Homo sapiens: one gene and its partner. The protein of the gene in region 1 purifies or fractionates together with the protein of each later gene. This does not show direct contact. Each region holds a gene or a part of one and is shown on either strand. Other genes may lie near its edges.

Region 1 (7,346 bases):
GCAGGATTTGCTGCTCACCAACCACTACACATACTTCTCTCTCGCAGGGTTTCTTAACTTGGGGTCTGTGAACTTGAATTGGAAAATTATCCCCATATTTCCATTAACCTCTAGCTAAATTTTTTTGTTTCCTTCAATTACAAATGGGGTCAGGTGCTCACAGTGGTATGACTGTCTGTGACTTTGCCAGCAAGAGAATTTTTTTTTCCCACCACAGCACAGTTGTTAAGCATCTTGAAATGCTGTTTACCCTTGTCACCATTTCAAAATTACATTAATAATTACAGTGGATGGTGTAAATCAATAAGTTAATTTATTAAAAGTACATATGACTACATCACCACTTTAAAAAACATGTTGTTTATATCTGTAGTGCAACATAAGTGGTTTCTTTTGTAATTCTATGTGTTTTATGCATTTGAAAACATAACTATGAGAAGGGGTCTATTGGTATCAGATGACCATGGCACACAGAATTTAAGAACCCTGATCTACTGATAGGTGGAGGCACAAAAATGATTTTAAGACAGCGCATTGCCTACATCATGTGAGTTAAGATATAGTTAACTGCTAATGCTGTTGATAGTGGGGTTATTAGTTTGCATTTCACTGCTAAGCCATGCTACCTGTGTGCCTGTCACAAAGAGGAAGCTCCAGATAGTTGCTAAATGAAAGGACAAACTGGGGTAGAGTTCCTGCAACAGCAGTTTGACTACTCCACTGATCCTACCAAGCAGCCTAACTGTGGCTCAGTTTCTCCTCTCTGAGGAATAGGAGTAACTATTGCTTACCCAACGACCCTGGAAAAACTTACAAGAAAAAACATTAATTTGTGTAAAAAGACTTAAGCCCTTTGAAAGACATACTTTTTTATTTTCCACGTGTATCTTTAAACAATAGTTCTAGTGGTCTTAATTTTATTAACACGGTGTCCACATCAGAATCGTGAATCCCATTTCCAGTTCTGCTGTCCACTATGGGCCATAAGGAAGAAAGAAGCAACAGAGGAAAGAAAGCTCTATCTCGCCCGGGCAATGGGTGGACTTAAAGATCAGTGCATATTCCTTGGATTTGTTTGTAAATTGTTCATGTATGTGTAATGTCTGGACAATGAGAATCCATAGCTTTCATCAGCTTCTCAAAGTGGACTCCAAAGAGGACCTACTCTAGAGAAACAAATGTGCTCCTGAAAAACTGTAAACAAACTGTGAAATGTTCAAATTTCTTTTTTACAAGACCCTCACATGTAAACCAGAACCCCTTCCGTACAAACTGTGGGTCACAGATAATAAAACAGGCCTGTGCAACATCTCACAGCTAGTCAATAACCAGACAGGACCACCTGGTTTCTTCCCCCCTGCATCAGCCTTGTCACTGAACAGTTTTATTCTTCTTTTTTTTTCTGAGACAGAGTCTCACTCTGTCGCCCAGGCTGGAGTGCAGTGGCGCCATCTCGGCTCACTGCAACCTCCGCCTCCCAGGTTCAAGCAATTCTCCAGCCTCAGACTTCCGAGTAGCTGGGACTACAGGCGCACTAAGCTACGCCCGGCTTTTTTTTTTTTTTTTTTTTTTTTTTTTTTTTTTTTTTTTGTATTTTAGTAGAGACGGGGTTTCACCGTGTTACCCAGGCTGGTCGCGAACTCCTGAGCTCAGGTAATCCGCCCGCCTCGGCCTCCCAAAGTCCTGGGATTACAGGCGTGAGCCACCGCGCCCGGCCAGTTTTACTCTTCTTAAATCTGATGTTCATGGCATAAAGCAGGAGTAGTGGCTTTAAATATCACTAGCCACAGCTTTCAGTTGCTCTGATCGCTATCATTCACAACTTTGAGTAAAAGGAAGAAAGAAAATTCTTCCAACTGACTTATTCAACTTTCAAAAATGAGTTTGTTGCAATGCCAGTTTAAAAGCTCCCCTACTACACCGTGCTTCTATAAAGGATTCTCAAATTGATGTATGTCCAGCAAGACTTACTACTAAAGGTCACACAACTGTACTAGCACGAAACAAGCCAAGAGATAAGGCCCTGTCATCCTTCTGTGTTCAGGAAACAACGGCGGGATCATGCCACAGGCCAAGATTTCCAAAGAGATTGCTTTAGAGAGAATGGATATCAGGAAGCAAGAGCAACAGTAATTCTGGCAGAAGGGCTAGGATCCATGAGTACCCGGGGGGGGTGGGAGTAGGGGGCGGGGAAGCTTGTACAATAGATCGTCTTAATAGAAATCTAGTGTGGCCAGGAGTGCACGACCACCAATAGAAGCGCCTGCATTTTCCTTCACAGCTATCACTCTCTCTTCCCTTCCCCGCCCACCAACGAAAGCAATGCGGCAGGAGTGGAGAGCACGGGATGAATAAATGGAGTATCTTTGGGGCGTAAACCCGGTTTTAAGACCTGTTTCCACCCCGAAATAGCTGCCTGACCCAGGCAAGTCACAAAACCGTGCCTCAGTTTCCCCACTACACTGCCGACTACACAAGAATGCTGCCTGGATTAAAGGAGACAGACAACGAGTACGAAACCTTCAGCACAGGGCCAGACAGAGGAACCGCTCCGTGGCCCTAGGGCGAGTCCGCAAGAGGGTTCTGAGGCCTGGGCTCCGGCCCGGAAAGGGCGCTCCCGGGGCCCGCTCCCCGCCAGCTGGGTTCCGAGCCCCTGCCCGGCCCACCTTGTTGTTGTACTCCTCCACGAAGCTGCCCAGCGCCAAGCGAAAGCGCTTATCGGGCCGCACACTCCAGTTCATCGCGTAGACTGTCCAGGGCGCTTCATACTTGTAGATCTCCTTCCGTTTGCCGTGCAGGGACATGGTGGCCACGGGGCCGCAGTACGGGCCGGGTCAACAGTGGGCTGCGGCGGGCGGGGAGCCGAGCCTGAGATCTATGGGTCCGAAGGGAGGAGAGGAGGGGGCGGGCAGGAACGGCCTAACCCGGAAGCGGGGATGCGGCGACAAACAACGACGACGGCCGAGCCCGACCCCTAGTTTCAAACCAGCTTGGGAACGGACGACAACCACCTTCCGTTTTGGGACGCCGCCCCGCCCTCTCGGAACGGAAGCCGCCGGACCCCCGCAGCGGCACCGGCCGTTGGTTGCCTGACACGTCCTTTCGAAAGGATTCTTTCTTGTCATTGGTTATTGCGGCCGTAGCGTCTGAAATCTCCTCGCTATTGGGTTAAATGTTTGTCATTGCAACTACTCGCCCCGCCCAACTCTCGGAGGCAGGCGCTTTGGCAGCCCCAAAGGTCATTGGTTGGCCAAGATGTCAGTCAGGCAGATAACGGCTCAGTGCGGGTGGTGGGGGCGTGGGTGGCCTGGAGGCGAGCGTGCTGTAGCAGCGGGCCTCCAAGTTCTAGGCCAAGTCTCTGAGAGTGAAACCGTCTGTGACCTGCGCTGACTTCCCCTCCGCTGCTGCTGTTCTGAGCGGCCTCTCCACGCTGTCGAGTAAAAGTACAATTCTGCCTTAGTGGAAGACCTACTGACTTTCGCGGGACAGAGCCCTGCGGCCTGGCAGCCTGGCCTGCGCCCAACGGGTACCACCTTCCCGCCCCATCTCTTCCCAGGGCCCTTTTAACCCGAAAGCTGCTCTCTCCGTGCCTCAGGGACAGGCTTCGGGCGCGCAGATGCGCTCAGGGCCAGGCCAGCTTGAGTCAGGCCCTCCCGCGCTTTCCTGCAGGATCTAGAAATGTCCCCGAATTCTGGGGTAGGCACCGACCCGACCAGCTTGGCTCTGTTTTTGTCAGTTCCCATCCTGTACCCTTCCCGCCGTGGATCCCAACGCAAATGCTAATCCAGCCCCAAAGGTATCTGTGCCTGTGAGTTGGAAAAGGGGAAGGGCCAGAGACCAAATGACACCTTTATATAAATTATTTCCAATTCTCAGCTTTCATCAAAATTGAAGGAGGTTTGTATTGAATTGTTGGATGATAACATTAAATACTTTTTTTTTTTTTTTTTAAAGACAGGGTCTTGCCCTGTCACCCAGGCTGGAGTGCACTGGTGTGATAAGGGCTCACTGTAGCCTGGACTGCCTAGGTTCAAACGATTCCCCCACTTTAGCCTCTGGAGTAGCTGGAACCACAGACATTTGCCACCACACCTAGCTATTTTTAAATTATTATTTGTAGAGATGAGATCTCTCCATGTTGCCCAGGCTGATCTCGAACTCCTGGGCTCAAGCGATCCTCCCACATCAGCATCCTAAAGTACTGGGATTACAGGCTTGAGCCACCATTCTGGGCACTAAATATAATTTTTAATGATAAATGATTTTTCCACCTCCCAGGTTCAAGTGATTCTCCTGCTTCAGCCTCCCGAGTAGCTGAGATTACAGGGGTGCACCACCACAGCCAGCTAATTTTTGTATTTTTAGTAGAGATGGGGTTTCACCATGTTGGCCATTCTGGTGTCGAACTCCTGACCTCAAATGATCTTCCAGCCTCGGCCTCCCAAAGTGTTGGGATTACAGGCGTGAGCCACCGCATCTGGCCAAGAAATCCTCTTTTTTTTTTAATTTTATTTTATTTTTGAGATGGAGTCTCACTCTGTCGCCCGGGCTGTAGTGCAGTGGCACTATCTCGGCTCACTGCAACCTCTGCCTTTAGGGTTCAAGTGATTCTCTTGCTTCAGCCTCCTGAGTAGCTGGGATTACAGGCGCCCGCCACCATGCCCAGCTAAAGGAAATCCCCTGTAAGGAGGAAAGTTTAAAAACAAATTTAAAAAGGAAAGAAAAAGACGTACAAAATTCGCGGTACCTTGTCTTATTCTAATAAAAAATAATGATATTTATCCACAGATATAGGAACTAACGGGGGGAGGAAATTTTCTCTTTTATGACGTATATTTCCAATAAAATTTTAGTTTTTATTAGAAAATTGAATATATATTTATGTTGTTTTGAACAACTGTACTACTAATAGATGTAACCCTTAAAGCCTTATTAAGGTTACAAAAATTAATTTTAAAATGTCAATTAATTTATACACATTCGTTTTGAGGCAGGGTCTTGCTCTGTTATCCAGGTGGTGGTGCAGTGGGGCAAACAGTGCTTATTGCAGCCTTGACCTCCCGGGCTCAAGCAATCCTCCTGCCTCCTTTATTTTTTGTAGAGACAAGATCTTGCTATGTTGCCCAGGCTGGGTTCAACTGGTCCTCCCACCTCAGCCTCCCAAAATGCTGGGATTATAGGCATGAGCCACCCCATGACCGACCTACTTTTTTTTTGAAACGGAGTCTTGCTCTGTTGCCCACGCTGGAGTGCAGTGGCACGATCTTGGCTCACTACAAGCTCCACCTCCTGGGTTCACGCCATTCTCCTGCCTCAGCCTCCCGAGTAGCTGGGACTACAGGCACCTGCCACCACGCCTGGCTATTTTTTTTGTATTTTTAGTAGAGATGGGGTTTCACCCTGTTAGCCAGGATGGTCTTGATCTCCTGACCTCGTGATCTGCCCACCTCAGCCTCCCAAAGTGCTGGGATTACAGGTGTGAGCCACTGCGCCCAGCCACTTTTTTTTTTTTTTTTAAGAGACCGAGTCTTGCTCTGTTACCCGGGCTGGAGTACAGTTGCATGAACATGGCTTACTGCAGTCTTGACCTCTTAGGTTCAAGTGACTCTCCCACCCAAGCCTCCCAGCAAGCCCTGTAGTACCTGGGACTACAGGTGCGCATCACAATGCTTGGCTAATTAAAAAAAAATTGTTTTGTAGAGACCAGGTTGAGCTATGCTGCCCAGGCTGGTCTTGAATTCCTGGCTCAAGCAATCTTCCAGCCTCAGCCTCCCAAAGTGTTGGGATTACAGGCATGAGTGAGCCACTGCACCCAGCCTGTATACATATTTGTGTTGCAAACATATGATAGGGTGATCAATATTAGGCTTTGAAGCATACCAATAAATTACATGTAGGATAAAACTATGGGAGGAATAAGTGGGAATTATGAGAAAAGAAAAAAGAACGATGTTAAAGAAGGGTTTCTTGTGTTTTTAAAATAGATGGTGGTGGCTCTCAAATCGCTGCTATTTGGGTAGAAATGGGTCAATACAAATGCCCCGTGTTGGGCACGGGGATGATTTTTAAAATTTTCATTTTGAGACAGGGTCTTATTCCCTTGCCCAGGGTGTGAGTTCAGTGATGCAATCACGGCTTACTGTAACCTTGGACTCCTGGCCTCAAGCAGTCCTCCTGCCTCATCCTCCTCCCAAAGCCCTGGGATTACAGGCATGAGCCACTACACCTGGCCTCTTTTTTTATTTTTATTTTCTTTTTAACTGAGGTATAATTTACACACAGAAGCACACTCTTTCGCAACCTGAACACCTGTAACCAGCACCTAGATCAGGAAACAGAACAGTACCTGCACCTCAGAAATCCCCCTCATGTTTGGGTGTCTTAGTCTCTCTGCTACTGATCCCACATCTGTAAAATGGGGATAATAATACCAACCCGTTGGGGTTGTTTTGAGGATTAGATGAACAAGTATCTGCAGAGCTGTCAGCACAGTGCCTGGTACGGGGCGAGTGCTACCGAAGTGTTGGCTGTTGTCATGATCCCCTAGGGCCACCAAGCCAGTGCCTCTGCTTCCCTTCACCTCGGCCTAACAGCCCCAGGCTCCAGGAGCCTCTGGGCCCAGCAGAACCACCTTCAGGTCCCCAACACACTGGATATGGTGGAGGGTAAGTCTGCAGCTCCTTACAAGAAGGGTTTGGAGAAAGCCACAGCACAGTCAAAGACGTAATGACCTTCAGATAAGTTACACACCCAGTCCAACATGAAATGTGTACTTTATTAGCTGTGTGACACTCCACTGCCCTCAAGAGACCCAATGTCACAGAACCATCAGGAGCAGAGGGCTGGAGGACTGTCCTGACATGTCTGCCACAGAACATACCTCCATCTCCAGCCAGGTCAGAGGCTCATGGTAAGAGTTCTGACCAACCCCGGGCCTTGGTGCTGAGCCATGAGGTGCTGGAGGGTTCTGAGCTGGGAGGCTCAGAGCAAGGTACTCATGTAGATCAGAAACCTCTTTCTTCACTGCCCCCTCAATCCTGTAAGCTGCCTCCACACCTGAGACTCTCCCACCCTGCACCAGGCTTGCTGTTTAAATGGAGCCCTGGAGGAGGCTGGGAAAAGTCGTGAGCTTCTTCACCCACGCCATCCTGGGTCACCTGGATCAGCAGTTTGTAGCTACTTTAGGAGAGGCCCATCTGGGGGGCTGTCTGCCTCCCCAAGATCTTTTTTTTTTTTTTTTTTGAGTTGGAGTCTCACTCTGTCACCCAGGCTGGAGTGCAGTGGTGCGGCCTCGGCTCCCTGCAACCTCCACCTCCCGGGTTCATGCCATTCTCCTGCCTCAGCCT
Region 2 (7,242 bases), on another chromosome or scaffold:
TACCCCAGCGCCGAGGCGGTGGTCAGTCTCTGTCCGTAGAGGGCGTAGGGGGAGTAGTACGGTCCGGTGGCGGCGGGCACCGGCACGGGGGCGCCAGGCGTGGGAAGCGGGCTCTTGGAGTAGGGGTGGTAGCGGCTGCTGAGTCCCAGCGCGTGGTGGGGGCTGCGCAGCGCCAGCGTCCCAGGGCTGCCCGGTGCGCCCGAGGTGGGGATGTGCATGTGGCAAGCCATGGCGGCCGCGGCAGCGCTGGCCAGAGACGACGAGCTGGGGTAGCCCGACAGCAGTTTGTCTGTCCCGGGAAATGCCGTATGGGTCCGCAAGTGGCTCAGCAGCTCTTCGGACGTGGCGAAGCGCTTGTCGCACGGCCCGTTGGCCGACACCCAGTTGCAGATGTGGGGGAGTGGGTCGTTAGGGAGCATAAAGCCGTAGGGGTAGAGGGGGTGGCCGGCCAGGGAGGGCGGTGTGGCGCCAGCAGCCGCGGCGGCCGTTAGCGAGGAGTGCACACCGTGCAGCGGGTGCGTGGGGTACACCAGCGGGTATCCGGACTTCAGCGCCGCAGCCGCAGCAGCCGGATCATGTGCGCAAGAAGCGCTGGCGGCCGCCGCCCCTGCCAGGTGGCTAGCGCAGTGGTAGCTGAGGCAGTAAGGGTCCCGGCACAAACTGGCTGTCATCACGGACGGCGGAGACGCTCCGGCCAAAGGGCTGGAGCCGGCCGGCTTACTGCAGCCCAGAGACCCGGCCGCGGCCGCCGCCAGCTGCGCCCCCACCAGGCTGCCCGGCTTGGTGGGGTCAAGTGCCACGCCGTGTGGCAGGAACTGGGGCGGGTAGCCGGCGTAGGCCCCGGCCAGGCTGCCTGGGTAGGTCATACCCGCGGGAGGCAGAGGGAACACTGTCTGGCCCGGCTTGTAGGGTGACACGGGAGCCACCAGCCCAGAGCCCAACACTGAGGAGGAGGTGGGCGCGCTGGGGCCGGAGCCGGAGCTGGAGCCCGATGAACCGCCGCAGTCCGAGCCCAGAGCCTTGCCTCCCGGGCCCCCATCCGGATGCTGGTTCACATCCACATTAATCCCGCCGCCGCAGCTAATCCGGCCGTGTGCCAGCCCCGTGGGTCCCCCTTCGGCCGAGGCGCCCCCGGTGCCCTTGCCACCGCCGCCCACGTCGGTGTCTTTCTTGTCGTCCTTGCCCTCCGGGGCACCCCCGGCCGAGGACAGCATACCTCCCGGCGAGCAGGCCGAGGCGCTGGAGCTCGGGCTGCCTGTCCTGGGCGTGAATGGCTGGCAGGTGGCGCTCGGTACCCGGAATCCCGACTTCTCCGACGAAACACCCCCGCCGCCGCCCCCGCCACCGCCACCGCCTCCACCGCCGCCTCCCGGCTCCTTCTTATCCGAGCCGGGTTTGGAGTACGGCTTGAAACTCGACTTGTCCTCCACGCCGATGTCGCTCAGCTTCAGGGGGCCCGATTTGGTGTCCTTGTCGCCCGCAGCACCGCCGCCGGCACCGCCCGCGCCGCCCCCGTTGGAGGCAACCGAGGAGAGTTTGGAGGAGGGCGAGGGGTCGGGCTTCCCGATCTGCGAACATGTTTGCGCCAACAGCGCCAGCGGGCTCTTCTTGGCATCGAGCTGCGGGGTCAGACGATGGGGGGGGAGCGTCACACAGAGAAAGAAGTGGAAACCCTTTAGAATCCTGGCTTCTGGGGTTCAAATGCCTCTCCGCAACAGCCCACGAAGATCCTCCCAGCCCCAAGGCGCAATTCTAGGCGGCACCCCCTCTTCAACACCCACTCACAAACATTCTCGCCGTTGGGAAAGGCAGCAGATTGCTCCCCCCGCCCAACCACCACCCCCAGCAGCATCTTTCCTGCCCTCTCTGAGCGCTAACTAGATTTTTAAAGAGCAAAATGTTTTGGTTTTCGGTTCCTAGACCCAGAACTGTACCCCCTCCCCACAAACACTCCTTAATTCTTCAGAGTAAGGGCTCGGGCGGCTGGCGCCTCAGAGGCTGTGTGCACACACTGGCTTCTGCGGATACGAAGGACGGCGACTTTGGAACCGTATTTCAGACCTCCGCCTGCCTTCGGTGCCGAGTGAAGGGGCCTGGGTCGGGGTAGGGGCTTTCATATCGAAAGGAGAAACAAGTATTGGCAGCCTTGCTCCCTAGCATGCACGCCCCATTCCACTTCCTCCCCCTTTTCCGCCCTAGTTTTGAGGTACGGAAGCAGTAGCCTCTTCCCCCATTCGGGAGCTGAATCACTCCGACCCCCCCACCTCCGCCCAGATCCCGAGAAAAAGAAAGCCCTAGGGTGGCAGCCAGGGTAGTGGTCCCAGTGCGATCCAGAGAGAGGGTCCTTACCTCGATGGGGCTGACCGGCGTGGAAGGCAGGGGCTGCAGGTACTCGGGGTGCAAAATGTGGCCAGTTCGTGCCGTCAGCATCTTCAGCACCTTGATTGGCAGGCGGTTGGCCTGGCGCAGGGGGTCAGAGGGGGGCACGGCGTGCACAAAAGGCTTGGTGCTGCCGGCCGGGGACGAGCCTGGGCCGGGGCCGGAGCTATTTCCAGAGAGCGCGCTGGTCCAGGCAGGGTCTGCACCGCCGCCTCCGCCTCCGCCGCCGCCGCCGCCGCTGTGCTTACTGCTTCTTAGGGCAGAAAGCGAGGGCGCTGTGCTCATGACCCACCCGCGCGCATGGGAGCAGCGGGGGGGAGGGCTCCGGGAGGCGCGGGGCGGGCTCGGGGCTGCGCGCTCGCCCCGGGAGCAGGAGCAGCGGGAGGAGGAGGAGCTGGCGCGGCGGCCACGGGCGCCCAGCGCGCCTTCTCGGCGCCTGGAGCCAGACGCGAGTAATCCTGGGTGGCCCGCAGCGGAGCCGTGGCCGGGCTAGAGGAGCCGGCTGGACTGCGGGAGTGCCGGGCGGCTCGCGGTGTCCGCCTCGGGCTGCTCCCCTGCGCTGCGTTCTCGCGGCCCCGCGCCGGCGCTGCGCTCTGCGATGCGAGCCGCTGCGTGTCCAGCCGGGGCTCTGGCGAGGAAACTCACTTCAAAAGCAGCTGCACCAAGGGGGAGATTAAAGCCTTTGCCGCCTTCCAATCAAATGGGAGCCCGAGGTGATTGGAGGGTCAAGGGGATGTGACGCGTCCCGCGCCGCCGCCGCCGCCGCTGCCAGGACTCTCAGTGCCGGTTTTAATGGGCAGCTCCCTCTTCGCCGCCCCCCTGTGTGTCCCCTCCCTCGATTTCGCTGGGAGGACGAGATGGACATTTATTCTACGTTTGCCATCCGCCGCCTCCCTCTTTTTTCCTCCTCGTCGTTCTTCCTTTCCCCAGCTCGAAAATAAACTGAAACCTTCTTTTGAAGGGGGGTGCGCGTGAGGAACAGACTGCGGGGGGTGTCCAGAAGGAGCACCGGTGGGAGTGTGGACACCGGCCGGACTGTCAACTCCAGGGGCGAAGGGAACCTGCACACCCAGTGTTTTTTCCTTCGCAGTAATCGAGATCCCGCGCGGCGCAGCGCAGCCACCAGGGTAAGAAGGCAAGGTGGGGAGCCGGAGCTGGAAGAAGCCCGCCCGCCCGCTCTAATTTCCTCAGATTCCGCGGCGGAGAAACCAGAAGCTAGATGGGCAGTCGCAGCGGCGGCGGCTCAACACCGCGAGGAGCGCTGGGCTCTCCGCCCTTCCCGGCCACGTGACGCCCGGGGACGCGTAGATTGGGGCAGCAGCGGGGGTCACATGTTTCCTCTGTTTCACCCTCAGTCTGTCCCCCAACCCCCCATTCTTACTCTCCCACCCTGTTTTCCTCCCTCCCCCCCTTCTTTGGGCATCTCCACCCCTCCATCAATTGTCAATGTTCCTCGACCGCAATCAATCAGTTATTTGTCAGCTCTTGTCAATCCTCCCGTGATTTATGTCAGCTTTTGTTGCTGATTACAAGGCGGGTGCGACTTGAAGGGAAAAAGAGAGAGGGAGAGAGAGACGGAGAGGAAGGAGGAGATTGAGAGGGAACTGGAGGAGGGGAAAAGAGGAGCGGCCTCCTGGGATGGGGGTGGGGTGGGGGCTCTAAGAAAAAGAATGAAAGAGGCGCACGGTGTCAGGAAAATGAATAGCGAGAGTAAAGTGCGCAGGTGCGCCCAGGGCGCCGAGAGGGGCGCGCAGGCCTGGAGTGTGCGCCTGCCCTCTCGGTGTCGGAGAGACGCCCTTCCACCTCTGGGAGCCTCGGTCTGTTGGGGTCGCGGAGTTCGGGCGCGGCTCCGGGTACCCGAGACCAGCGGCGGCAACTTCTAACACGGGAGATTTCCCGCCACCCCACCCCGCCGCCGCGAGTCCTCGCGGGGCGTGTTGCGTGCGGAGGTCAGGCTGCCACCCTCTGTAGTTCCCTAACCCCAAACTCGGAGACTTCTAAGAGCCACACCACCAAGGAACTTCTAGTCCTGGAGGTCAATGGTGGGGCAAACCTCGCCTCAATTCTTTGACCCCCTCGGGTCGTAAGCAGGGCTAAGAGGCTGCGAAGAAGAGGCCTGGCCATGGGTGTATGGGGGAAGAAACATCTCAGGCTCACTCATGCCCCCTCCCCGACCTTCTCCCACCTGCCGCCATCCCCGCAGGCTGGGGAGCCAGGGTAACTCGGGGCTGCTCTCTCGAATTTATTGGAACGCCGAGTCGGAATGAGCTGCGCTAGGAGAGCCGAGGGAAGGAGCGAGAGAGGGAGGGGGCGGCTGCCTGTGGGAACGCGGGTTCTTCCAGGGAAGCGGAGCGGGACTGCCGCGTTCCCCTCGATTTGCACCGTCACTCGGGTTGTTTGGGAAGAAAAGGGGAGGCGCTGTGCGTGCCACCGGGTACCTGGACCTGGATGCCCAGTGTGTATGCATGCCTGTGGCGCTGCGTGAGTTATCGGGGCTCTGATAGCGTCCGGAGCGGGTTCGAGGGTCTCCTCCAGGAACTCGCAGAAATTAGAGGGGGTGGGGAGGAGGACACACCCCCTTCCTCGGAACGACTTAGAAGACTTTGAATCTCCCCTCCTCCGCTTTTCCGCCCCGGCTCTTCTTTTGTTGTCAAGTCCTTTTGATAAATGGTGGGGCTGGGAGCTCTGGGAGTCGGGAGCCAGTCTGTGCCCGCGTGGGGGGCGGGGGCCGAGCCTGGAGACCCGGTTTCGACCGGCGCGCACCTGGGGCTGAGCCGGGTGCGCGCGGGGGTCGGGTCTGGAACTGCCCTTGGTATGCTCGCCCTCTCCTCTTGGCCCATCTCACTCCCCTCCCCCACCTGACTCCCCTCCCCGGCTTCTTTCTCTGTCTCCCACTCCGCACGGGTACCGAGAACTTTCCGGGGTGAGTTTTAGAATTTGCTCCTAGGCATTCTTTTTCTGCGTTTGGATTTTATCCCTTGATTCTTTGGGTTGGTAAACTTTATGAAATGGTAACTTGACTGAAGCTCATTTGGAGAGAAGAGGGGAGTGAGGCGGTGTGTGCTTGGGGCTGGTGTTTGTCAGTGTGAGCGTGTAAGAGCACACCTGCATTCAAGGGGGTTTGTAGTGTCCGTGCGACATCTGAGGGAGGTGAGTCGGCGAGCGGGTGGCGAGGCCCCACGCTGAGGGAGGCGGTTGTCTGGTCTCCGGGGAGCAAGTCCCAGGTGCGCGTTTCGGAGGGCGGGACAGTCCTACGCTGTCTCTGCGGGGCAGCGCGTCTGTGAAGCACTCTTATCCTTCGGGTGTGTCCATGTGTGCCTGGTTACTGAGTGCGCGGCCGTCTAGGTGTCGACCCAACCAATGGTAGTGCTCCTAACGCCGCGAGCCCACCTTTGGGCCGCTATCGCCGCGGCCTCCCCGCGAGGCCCGGGCACTGAAATTCTGGGGCCTGCGACAGGGCCGGGGGGGACGCAGCCAAGGGCGTCCCTCCCCAGCCTCCAGACTCAGCTCTTCCCCCTCTCCTCTAATTCCAGCAGCTTATTACGCCGGCGGCTCAGGGGAGGCAGCCTCAGCACCTGAAGCCTGGGGGGGCCGTGGAGTGGCTCCTGCGTCCCCCGGTGTGGCCACACACGCTCGTGGGGCTGCGCTGTGCTGCGTGGGTGCGGGTCGTGGTCAGCGTGCGTTCGCTTTTCTCAAAACTCCACTCCGAGGGTCCGAGCGCATGGGGGCGCCTGGGGGCCTGCGCGCCCGGGGCTTTTGGGAGGCGCCAGCGTCCGAGCCTGCGCACCTCGCGCAGGAGGCCAAACCCCCGAAGGCCGGCGCGGGCCCGGGAGTGGGGGCCATTAATTACTCTGCGCCAGGCCTAAAGCCTCCAACCCCCAGCAGCAGTTGGCGTGGATGTCCTGCGGATTTTATTTGCAAACAATGGAAATGATTTGTTTTCTCTAAAAAAGGAGTGGGCAAGGCAGATATTGGAGGAGGGGGTGGGAGGAGGAGAAGGAAGGGGAAAGAGCTGAGGAAAAAAGTTTGAAAATGCCTTGAACTATTCACTGTCGAGATGGCTAATCAGTATTGAGGCCGGAGGGCAGGCGGGCCGCCTTTCACCGCCGCTTCCCTTTCATCTCGGGCTCGGCGGAGGCGCTCAATTAAAAGCCTATCAGTTTGTAAGTAAATCAACGCCTATCAGAGTTGTCACATCAAACAAAACGATTATTATTGCAGCCCGCCTCCCCTATTAATCTCCCTCGAAGATAATCCGCCTGACAGGTCAGGCCCGGCGAGCTGGAAAGCCTGGCCCAGAGCACCCAAACAGTCCCGGACTGGCGCGCGCCCCCGGGGGCCTCCCCACCCCTGTCCTGCCCCGCCTCGCGGTCCCTGGGAGCGGGGAGAGAAAGCGCGCGCGGAGGCCTCTGCACCCAGGTCCGCCCCACCTGACTGGGAGCAAGGCCCAGATTCGCGGGGCCAGTAGGGGACAGTCCCGCGCGGCCCTCGCCGCTGCTCGGGGCAGGGGAGAAGCCTGGCGTGCAGGAGCCGCGGCCCGGCCCGGGGTCTCGCCACGGCCTGCGCTCTCCTCGGCTCTCATTTATTTTCTTCCTCCCTTCTTTTTGTTTTCTCTCCCGCGTCTTTCTGGGCTCCCCCATCTTTTTCCTTCATTTCCTTTTCCTTTTCCCTTTTTTTTACTTGCCAGGGAGTATTTCCCATTCTGGCTCTCTCTTCTTGGTGTGCCGTATAAACCTTTCTTGCGCAGCCACACTGCCTGGAGTAGGATGTTCTCAGGGCCCGGGTTATTTCTCCCGGGTTGCCCCAGGAGTGTGCAGTTCCCAGAAACTCATGGCAAAGTCCTCTATAATCTCTTTCCGAGCA

Evidence for each region. The genes of interacting proteins can lie anywhere in the genome.
Region 2: the proteins of DCAF7 (region 1) and ZNF503 purify together in Homo sapiens (affinity purification with mass spectrometry; 5 studies listed by BioGRID and IntAct, with this or other methods). This does not show direct contact.

What each region holds. Positions count from the first base shown.
Region 1 is NC_000017.11:63,546,136-63,553,481, reverse strand, and holds the start of DCAF7 (DDB1- and CUL4-associated factor 7), read right to left. Parts: upstream 3,006-7,346; 5' UTR 2,805-3,005; coding exon 2,667-2,804; intron 1-2,666. UniProt on the Homo sapiens protein: Involved in craniofacial development. Acts upstream of the EDN1 pathway and is required for formation of the upper jaw equivalent, the palatoquadrate. The activity required for EDN1 pathway function differs between the first and second arches.
Region 2 is NC_000010.11:75,398,756-75,405,997, forward strand, and holds the start of ZNF503 (zinc finger protein 503), read right to left. Parts: upstream 3,010-7,242; 5' UTR 2,665-3,009; coding exon 2,350-2,664; intron 1,620-2,349; coding exon 1-1,619. UniProt on the Homo sapiens protein: May function as a transcriptional repressor.